Regions from separate parts of the Homo sapiens genome. Here region 2 is linked to region 1. Evidence: fine-mapped expression QTL. A gene starts in region 1. The other region holds a variant in brackets. All regions are shown on one strand. Distances are from middle to middle.

Evidence for each region. PIP is the estimated chance that this variant, and not a neighbour inherited with it, causes the effect. A credible set is the group of variants that fine-mapping cannot tell apart.
Region 2: its variant is the best candidate, but not a certain one, in a credible set for the expression of TTC39B in whole blood (INTERVAL, PIP 0.59).

Annotation. Positions count from the first base shown.
Region 1 is chr9:15,304,027-15,309,412 of GRCh38, forward strand. TTC39B (tetratricopeptide repeat domain 39B) reads right to left here and starts at 3,190. Exons shown (of 20, transcript NM_152574.3): 1 at 3,058-3,190. The coding sequence starts at 3,099. RefSeq lists silencers at 804-873, 2,755-3,074, 3,105-3,444 and enhancers at 1,828-2,391, 2,955-3,517.
Region 2 is chr9:15,165,654-15,171,039 of GRCh38, forward strand. TTC39B (tetratricopeptide repeat domain 39B) reads right to left here. Exons shown (of 20, transcript NM_152574.3): 20 at 1-5,386. Among named protein-coding and RNA genes, the nearest start is that of TTC39B, 140 kb to the right of the region's middle. The variant C/CAAAA (reference allele first, on the strand shown) is at 2,766.

The DNA of each region.
Region 1 (5,386 bases):
TGAGCTGAATAATCTTAATTGAATTAAATAATAAAATATAAATGATTTTCATTCAATTCTCAAATCCTTATATTTGAGGGCCAAATATAAGCAAGCCACAAGGCACCCAATGGTAGCCCATAAGTATGTGAAGGTAACCAACTAAAATGACTTCAAGATCAGGCAACTAGAGAGAAAGTCTTCCAACCACAGCCATCTCTACGTTATAAATTTGTTGGATTGACCTTGAATATATTCTGTACATCTTCCATGAATCCATTATCAATGTTGCTAGTGTAATACACAAGAAAACCCAATGAGAGAAATTCAAATATTAAGAAACAAGCTTTTGTTGATTGAGCTTTAAATGGCCACACACCATTATAATATCTAAGATGCTTGTGCTCCCCAATAACCAATTTTTGCCTCCAATGAGGATGCAAGTCCTAACTTCTATGCTCCCGAATTTATCATACTAGCACCTAAAAAACACAAATTAAAAAATCAATTTAGCCAAGAAAACCTCCATCCCACAGCTACCATGGGAGCTTCTCTACCATTATCATTCATTCCTTGGGTACTTTTAAAGAAAAAGATTTCCATATTATTAGCCCTTCTCCCAAAAGAAACTCCCTCTTCCCCAACCTCCCCCCCGACCCCTCTCCCCCATCTCAATAAAAACCCAGATCTTTAGAGCTGGAAGAACACTTAGGGCTAATCCAGCCCCTCCTTCTTCAGATAAGGGAACTGAAAGAGCCCTCTGAGGTTGACAGACTTGCTCAATCAAGGTCAACAGTCATGGGAAGGACCTTGTCTGTCTTGTTCACTGTTGTACCTCCAGGCTAGTACAGGGCTTGGCACCTAGTCAGCTGTTTACACACATAAGTGATGAACAAAGAGAAGAACCAGGTTACCTAAAAACCTAACCTGGTACTTTTCCAACTATATCACTTTGTCCCTTTTAACTCCCCCAGAATATCAAATAATGGCCATTAAAAACTATCAATATCAAATAAAGACTATCAGACTCTTCTTAAATACGTGAAAAGCTTCCTAGCTGAAATAAGCTATTTGCGCACCCAGTAAAATTGAAGAGCAGGGTCTTATGAACTCGAGGTTAGAGTTCTTCAAGCCCATTTACGGTAAGGGACTTTCTACAAATAAATCAAGGGTATCCAGTCTACAACACACTACTTCTTACTTGCTTACATTTACTTGAGCTCCTTTTTAGAGTTCTTGTACCCAGGTCATATCTCCCTAATCAGACTGAGAACCATAAAGAGGCAAAACTATGCCTTCTCTAAGGCACCTACCAAGTTTGAGCCCAAAGTAAATGCTCAATAAACGCTTGCTCAGTTTATAGCAATGGAAGTGGTAAACTGTGAGGGACAAAAGTAAATTTGGCATGAACAAAGAATTCAATTTGTATTTTGCTCATCAACTAGGACTAGTACAGTACCTAGCATGTAACAGAAGCCTAATAGTTAATGAATGAAGAAAAATAAATGAATGATATGGCAAAAACTGAGTTGTTATTAAGCAACATCTTTTCTGCAGTCTTTCATTCATTCAACAAATATTTATTTACCAAGTATCTGTGTGCCAGGCTCTCTGCTACTCTGAAACCTAACTTCCACCCAGAGTTTCACCCACAGAAACCTAACTTCCCTCCTCATCGGCTAATGCATCTCAACCGTTCATCTAGTAGGCAGTGAGCATAGCTGGGGTGACCATTTGTCAAAGTATCTCCGAAACAGTCCCAGTTTACACCTATTATCCCAGTGTTAATTAATAATAGCACCGCCTCAACAATGCCCTAATCTAGAGAATTACATAGTTCTAAGCACAGCAAATCTCCTACAAACAGATCGGGATTCAAATATTTCATTCTACAGTCTTGGGATCCTCAATGCAAGGGACAGGCTGTAAGCAAGGGTCTGGACAGCCCGGCTTGCCCTCTTGTCTCTCTGTCATGCAGAGGAGCTGTAGTTCAGTTTTTGTTTTTTGTTTATTTTACGGAGCACATTTAAAGTATAGTCTTCCTTGTCAGGAGATTCCTGGCACTAAAGAGATGGACGGGAAACTTAACCGCCTCCTCCAGATCGTCCACTATTGCATCATTTGAAACCAAAGCCTTCTAAAGGCAGCGACTCGCACAATTCAAGTCAGGTAAGATGGCAGGAACAGCAGCTGTGGGTGCTGGCTGCTGCTGGAGCCTCGGTCTCAACTTCAAGAGCAGGGAGAGCGCTGTCTCTGGAGTTGCCAGGTGCTGAAATGAATAGTCAATAAATCAACAGGTCCGGCGCGCTAGCCCCTGGGTGCTCAGGCCCGGGCGCGCCACGACTGAAGGAGTGGCTAATTACTCAAACACAGTTGAAACCAAAGGAGGCCGGAGTCGGTTCTCAAAGTGGTTTCCCTCCGGCCACCACCGACTCTGAGGACCTGCTAGGGGAAGTGTCCCGGCCCCGTGGAGGGAGAGGGAAGCACCACAGCCTGGGCTGCGGCTCTAGCCCTCCAGCCCCAGCCCCTGGCAGCCCTGCCCTGCTGTCGCGGCAGGTACCCCTCTACTCATTGTTCCTCAGGCTGCCCCCTCTTTTCATCAATCGTAAGCCTTTCGGTTCTGCCACCAGGAAACTTCCATAGAAGGTGAGATTCCCAGGTCGAGGGATGATTCCACGAACACCCAGAGAGCCAGTGCCAGGACTTCAGGGTCAGACTTCGTAAAGCCCAGGCGTCGCTGGGCCGGCCCGGAACAGCTCAGAGCTGCGGGTCCTATGGTCCCGCGCCCTCACGCCCATCCAAGTGCTGGCAGGACGTGGGTCCTCCATCCCCACGACTCGCGGGGCCGGCGCTCCGAACCTCGGCACTGCGTCCGCTCCGCGCGCCGCAGGGACCCTCCTAGCTCCAGCGGGGACAGACCTACCAAGGCCGGGCGCCCCCACCCGGCGCCCGCCAGCCCACCCCAGAGAGGGGACCAAGGGGGCGGGGCCTCGGCCGTCCTAGCCGGGCTCACTCTTCTCTCCCGGACTCCTGTCCAGGGCTTCAGGGGCCGGGCCCGCAATCCCCATCGGATCGTACCTCGTCCGCTTCCAGCTCCGCTCGGCTGCCTAAGAGCGCCATATTCCTCCTCTGGCTGCTGCCACCCAAAAACCAAGCAGGGAACTCAGAGCCGACTCCTGCTCTCGGCTCTGGGCTCAGCCCAGCGCAAAGGAGGGCAAAAGGGGACGGCCCGGCGCTCCCTCCGGGTCTCGGGCGGGGCCTGAGTGCAGCTACTCGATTTCCCCGCCCCCGGAGCCGGCAGGCCAGCACAGCATCCATTTCCTCCCCGGACGCCGCGCCGCTGGCCGGGCCACTTGCCCGGCCCCCAGCGGGCGGCAGCCCCGCCCAAGTGGGTGGAGTCACCTCCCAGATAAAGTTTCCCGGTCTGGCACGCCCTCTGGGAGGGTTTCCTAAGCTTTCCTGCCGCCTGTTCTCTGCGGTGGCTGGGCACACCTGGAAAGAAGCTAGAGAGCGCGGGCATGACGAAGCCAAGGTCAAAGCAGCGCCCCACCTGGGGTCCGTGGAAGCATCCACCTGGTCTTTGGTCCGGTGCCAGTCCTTTTCCCTCGCCAGGTGGCCACCGCATCTCGCAGATGGTGTGGCCTGAGGGCAGCCTTGGGTCACGGTCACTGGTCCCCGAGAGGCCTCTGACACACCACCCACCTGGACTGTAGGTGGAAGGACTCTGCTTGCTTCTGTGTTCAAAAAATAGAAAAAAACGCGGGACAGAGATTTATACATATTGGAACTCCTCTACTTCCCCCTACCCGGACAGTGTATTCTCCCCATAGCATCCTGTATTTTGTAACTCCAAACATAGGTGTATAATTCGTGCTTGAACTATAAACTCCATGGGGGTAGGATGCTATCTGTCCTCTTCAAGACTGTATCCCCAACACCCAGAACAGTGTCTTGCACATCGTAGGTGCTCAACAGATATTTGTTGGCTGAGTTTAGAAACTGAACCTTGCTTCTGACATGTAAAATAACTGGAAAATTAAAAGCTAGATCTTTAAGAGTTTGGGGGAGAGAGGTCAGATTTACTTTACATACAGAAAAATGCACCAAGTTAAATGTGTGATTCAGTGACAAGTGTTTACAAAGCATCCCAGTCATAATATAGAACATCCTGAAAAGTTTTCTGTGACCCTTTGCTGTCAATTTCCTACCTCCGCTCCCTAGCCTCTGTCAATCACTGATCTGCTATCAACATCGATTTGCCTTCTCTAGAATTTCATATAAATTTAATTAGAGCATGTGGTCTTCCATGTCTGGCTCATGAAAGGCTATTTAATAGTCATCCAGTGATAACTGTAAAAACAGCTAATAGTTCTTGAGTCCTTACTATGTGCCAGGACTCTACTGAACCTCTTGCATATAGTATTTCATTTATTCTTCATAACCCCATAAAGTAGGGTGCTGTTCTCTTTCAGATGAGTAAACTGAGGCTCAGAGAGTTCAAGTAATATGCCTGAGGCCAGACAGCAGTTAAGTAAGTAGGGATGCCAGCATCTGAACCCCAGCAGTCTAACTCTAGGGCCTAGCTGATAACCATTGCTTTGTACTGTACTGGCTCTAGCCACCCTCCCTCTCTTTCTTTCTGTGTCAGTAGAGCAGTTGTCTGTGCAAGTCCATTACATACATTTTCAGTGAGTCACTTTGCATCCTTAATACTTGCTGTACAATTTTAATGGCTTGGCATGTACTTTTGTACTAGAATAATAAAATGGTTTCTACAGCAGAAACATTGAAAAAATGGGTTAGATCGTGTGATGGTTGCTCAACTCTCTGAATTGTCTAAAAATCCTTGAATTGTGTACTTACAATAGGTGGAACTTATGATTATGTAAATTATATCTTAGTAAAGCTGTTTTAAAAAAACTAGCTGACACAGGCTAGGTGTGGTGGCTCACGCCTGTATGGGATTACAGCACTGGGAGACTGAGGAAGGAGGCTAACTTGAGTTTAGGAGTTCGAGACTAGCCTGAGCAACATAGCAAGACCCAATTTCTAAATAATAATACTTTTTTTTTTTGAGAGACAGTTTCACTCTCATCTCCCAGGCTGGAGTGCAATGGCTCGATCTTGGCTCACTGCAACCTCCGCCTCCTGGGTTCCCACTAATCTGTAAATTGCTTAGAAGGAGGCACTATCTTATTCATCAGTGCAGGTACTCAATAAAAAAGCTCCAGGTGCAGTGGCTCATGCCTGTAATCCCAACACTTTGGGAGACCGAGGCGAGCGGATCACGAGGTCAGAAGTTCGAGACCAGCCTTACCAACATGGTGAAACCCAGTCTCTACTAAAAATACAAAAAGCAGCTGGGCATGGTGGTATGCGCCTGTAATCCCAGCTACTGAGGAGACTG
Region 2 (5,386 bases), 140 kb before region 1:
TTCTTCACAGGGCGGCAGGAAAGAGAAGTGCTGAGCAAAGGGGGAAAAGCCCCTTATAAAACCATCAAATCTCGTGAGAACTCAATCACTATCATGAGAATAGCATGGGGAAAACTGCCCCCATGATTCAGTCACCTCCCACTGGGTCCCTCCCATGTGGGGATTATGGGAACTACAATTCAATAAGAGATTTGGGTAGAGACACAACCAAACCATATCAACCACACAGCACTTCAAAATAATACAATTCCTTTAAAAATGAAATAATATTCTTTATTATACTTATTTTTTATTCAAAGTTTTTGGCTACAAGTCTGCTACACTGAGACCAATTTATTTCTTTCCCAAATGGTGCCCAACAGACTACCAATAATTAAAACTAATTTACTAGAAAATACTAAGCAGCAATAAAACTGAAGGTGTCACTGGGATATGCCAGCACCCCTTAAATTTGTTGTTTAAATTAGTGTTTCTAAAAACTATGGCATTAATATACAAGGTATATTGTATGTTAATATTCAACAAGTTTCACATAATGAAGTTTGTTATTAAAGTGCCTTAATTTTCCCTATTAAATATCCAATCTGTAGGCATTCTTTTCAGTTAAATACAGTGAGCCAGCTGCTTTGATTTTTCCATGTGATGTCCTGTTACAGTATTACTGTGCTAAACACATATCATGGGTACATTGTAAGCAGAAGGGAATGGGGTGTAGACTTCCTCTGAAGCTAGATCCACCTATCTCCTCTGGATAATTCAGGCCAAGAACCTGCTCAGCCATCTCAGTCCACTAAACAGTCCTTGCATCATTTCTTTCTGCAGTTATGAAGTTACAAAATGACTAGAATGGACTTCAACAGTCCTCTAAGAGGACAGTCTGTCAAGATCAGATAGCAGCTGCTCAACATAAAAGATATCTTCCCTGATGATAAATTCTGATGTGTCCTTTTCATTACATTTCAAGTTCAACATTTCAAAATAACTAAATCTAACAGCAAATGTGTAAAAGACAAAACTACCAACAATAGGCAGCAGAAACAAGCAATCTAACACTTAAAGACAAAAATATGTAAATAACTGGACTCGGGGAGGAAGGACTAGGATAAGAAATCCTGCATTTCTTTGGAAAGAACTGTATAAAACAATGTCTATTTATTATTTGTAAGTAGTTTTGTATATAGCTATCTATAGATACATGTATCTTATGAAGAAATATCTGAAGAGATTTAAAATGTCTTAATTATATATATGCATATCACTTAGGTATCATACACATTCAAAAATAAATTATTCTCTAAATGGGTAACATGTGTCCACAAACCTTTATTTTATATATATATATATATATATATATATATATATATATATATATATATTTTTTTTTTTTTTTTTTTTTTTTTTGAGACAGGGTCTCACTCTGTCACCTGGGGTGGAGTGCAGTGGCATGATCTTAGCTCACTGTAGCCTCAAACTCCTGGGATCAAGCAATTATCCCACCTAAGTCTCCCTAGTAGCTAGGACTACAAGTGCACTCCACCATGCACGGCTCATTTTTTTTTTTTTTTTTTTTTTTGTAAAGACAGGTTCTCACTGTATTGCCCAGGCTGGCCTCAAACCCCTGGTCCCAAGTGACGCCCCCCAACTTTGGCTTCCCAAAGTTTTAGGATTACAGGCGTGAGCCACCATTGCCAGCCTCTAAAAACCTTTAAATAGTAATACTGGCCTAGTTGAGAAAGTCAGTGTTGAAACATTAATAACAAAGCAATGGAAAAGATTCCACTAGATTTCTCAGAATAATTTTATCTTAGAAAATATTGGGCCAGGCATGGTGGCTCACGCCTGTAATCCCAGCACTTTGGGAGGCCAAGGCGGCCAGATCACCTGAAGTTGGGAGTTCGAGACCAGACTGACCAACATGGAGAAACCCCATCTCTACTAAAAATACAAAATTAGCTGGGCATGGTGGCACATGCCTGTAATCCCAGCTACTTGGGAGGCTGAGGCAGGAGAATTGCTTGAACCTGGGAGGCAGAGGTTGCAGTGAGCCTAGATCGTGCAATTGCACTCCAGCCTGGGCAACAAGAGCGAAACTCTGTCTCAAAAAATATATATATTAATCATGAAATCTATCTTCTCAAAGATGTGAATCACTCTTCTATAACTCTAACAACTGTACTTTGTAAAAAAGAATGTCTGTAAAATCAAATTAAAATCATCATCTCAAAAATAAAATTTCTTAATCTAGTACATAAGGAGTTTGGCGGAGGGAGGGCAGAATAATGTTCAAATATGCCAATGACACTGACCATCTGCAGATAAACACGATCAAATGAAAGTTTAAGGGCACTTTAAATAGAAAAAGCAAACTTCACAGATATGTATGTGAAGCACAAATCAGGTGATCATAGTAGACAGCAAGTAAAAGCCAGAACTCCGCAAAGCAGGCTATTGGGAGGCCTTTAAGAAGTGCAGCACGTATGAGTGAATGCTTCCTCAGCATTCAGCACCATTCCCACATGTGCTGTAAGCCATTCCGGGTGCTCCGCAGCCATGTGTGGCGAGGGGCTACTGTACTGGACAGAGCAAGACTGAGGGGAAACAACACGGTTTACAGGCTCATGAGGGCAAGGTAATTTTCTAAGATCCATTCCAGGCCCAAGGAATCACAAAATCTTAGGGTATTAAAACATCACTGGAGTCTTCGTCAACTCATTTTAACTAAATGTATTTGAATTTAAGATTTCTAAATATGCAGAGTATAAATA[C/CAAAA]AAAAAAAAAAAACAGAAATGGAGGGAAATGAATGAAGCATTAGATAATTCCAGAAGATTTTCCAGTTAGCCACAAAGATCTTTTTAAAAATTATTTTTAATGTCCAAGCTGGAGGAAAACCCTCCTATTTATGAAGATCAACAGACTAGACTCACTTTAAAAAGGAGTGGATCACGAGTTCAGGAGATCGAGACCATCCTGGCTAACACGGTGAAACCCCGTCTCTACTCAAAATACAAAAAATTAGCCAGGCGTGGTGGCGGGCGCCTGTAGTCCCAGCTACTCGGGAGGCTGAGGCAGGAGAATGGCGTGAACCTGGGAGGAGGAGCTTGCAGTGAGCAGAGATTACGCCACTGCACTCCAGCCTGGGTGACAGAGCGAGACTCTGTCTCAATAAAATAATATTAAATTAAAATAAAATAAAAGGAGTGGAAAGTATTAACACCGGGGATTGTTAGTGTCTATCACAACTACCTCTAATAGTAGCTTTGAAAGAGAAAACATTCACTTTTATTTGAAATGGTAGGGGGGGAGCATTTTTTCTTTACACACTCCCTGCTGATTTGAAGCCCTAATAAAAGAATCATAGAGTGACCTCAAAGTTCAACTAGTCTAAGCTTGCAGGACAGGCAGAAATGACAGTCACATTAGCCCTGCTTAAACTCACCCCTTTGCAGAAGAACTGGTTATTGATTTTAGACTGTTGGGTTTTCCGATAATGAAAAATCTTCCTCGGCACTGATTAATCTGGAATTCAGCTTCCTACAGCCTTTATCCACTTGTCTCATTTCTGCCCTCTGAGGATAAAGACAGGATCAATGGACTTAATTTTCCTATATAACTTGGAAACTTCTTGTATCAGGGAGCATAGAAAACATTAACATATATGTCCAGATAAGAGCTGATACAGTTCACCTTTCATTCCTTGTCAGGGGGAAATCATGCCTTCCTTGTCACCATTCCTACAAAGCACAAAGTTACTTAAATTTATACAGCACCAATCAGAACCCTGCCTCTCCATTAAGGAAAAAAAAAAGGCAATTATGCCAGGAACTACATGAATTGCACTGTCAGACACAATGGCAACCCAACCCCATCATAAATGCCCCTCAAAAAACTAGATAAAACTGTCACTTCAGTATTCATTCTTCACAGAACACCCTAATGACTCCAAAATGCAATATTAGCTGATGCCCAAGAAGTTGGTGCCACTACAATATCTTGAACATAGCAGGAAACATAAATATTTGTAGCATTTTGATATTACAGTACTAAAAGATCCACTGGATATACTGTCCATAGTATCAGGTAACTGCATAAAGAATAGGAAACAAAAATAAAACAAAATATAAATAACAAAAAAGATTTTTAAATGGAGATGAATTTCTTTTATATTTGTTTAGTAATGCAGAGTTAAAATAAAAATGGCCACTCTAAGCTTAAAACTGTTTCATTTTATCCCCAAAAGAGAATTTGTTACTGACTTGCAGCACTGACTTGCAGCTTCTCACAGTAACAATGTAAGAATATATGCTCAGTATACCCACAGTCACAATGTGAGTGTGCGCTTTCAAAAATAATGTTACCAAAGCTCTTCTAAGAGCTTTTTTCCAAAAAGCTTTTTTTGGAAAACTTTTTTCCAAAGCTATACACAAATAATTTTTAATGTATTTTCCACTACTAATTATAATGACAGTTAATTTTATTTTCTATTTTGTCTGTACCTAAAGTTGTATTACTAATAACACATTGATATCTACCGCCATTGATATCTATCTTTCATTGGATATACATCCTCAGTGTTGGTCAAGAATCAGTACCTTGAAGAAAACAAGCCACACACTGCTTGATACAGGTCCATGTGGCAGGGAACGGCAGGAGCAGGTTCATATAACCTGGGTAGCCTACTGTCAACATCAAACACATGAATACACAGTAAGGTATTTGAATTTCTACACTTCTTTCATTTTACAACACAAACCACAGTATCAGCCAATACTTTTGTGTTGATACTGTAATCCAGACATAAAAAACCATAATTATTATAATAATTCATACTTTTGTATAGCCTTTTACAGTTTACAAAAAGCTATCATATGTTTTATCTAATTGAGCCCTCACAAGTACCAAATACCACACCGCTATCCATAGTGGGGCAACTGAACCCCTGAAAAGCTGAGCTACGTACTCCGTGTCATGGAACTATTAACCCACAGAGATGAACTCGTGACTCCCAATATGTGGCTCCTTCTGTTAAACTGCAGAGGCTTCTATGACAAGTTATTCTTCAAAATGGAAATAGAAATAAGGCCCAGATTCATCAACTCATAAATTGTCTTTTCTCACTCTGGATGCCACAACACATACATGTGGGGAGTTGGGGGCAATGATGATGATTGAAAAATAAAACACTCCAAGTGGGAATGGTTTGCATTCGACATTTTAAAGTCATTTGTTGAAAATAAATACCTAATACATAGACTCACAGTTATAAAACTGAAAAAGACCTTGAAAGTCATCTGTTCTTTAATCTTGATTTCACAGAAGAAAATGTGGTGACACACAGGGCACAGTGGACTCCCTAAAGGTCTCCTCACTAATCGCTAATGGGTAGCAGAAC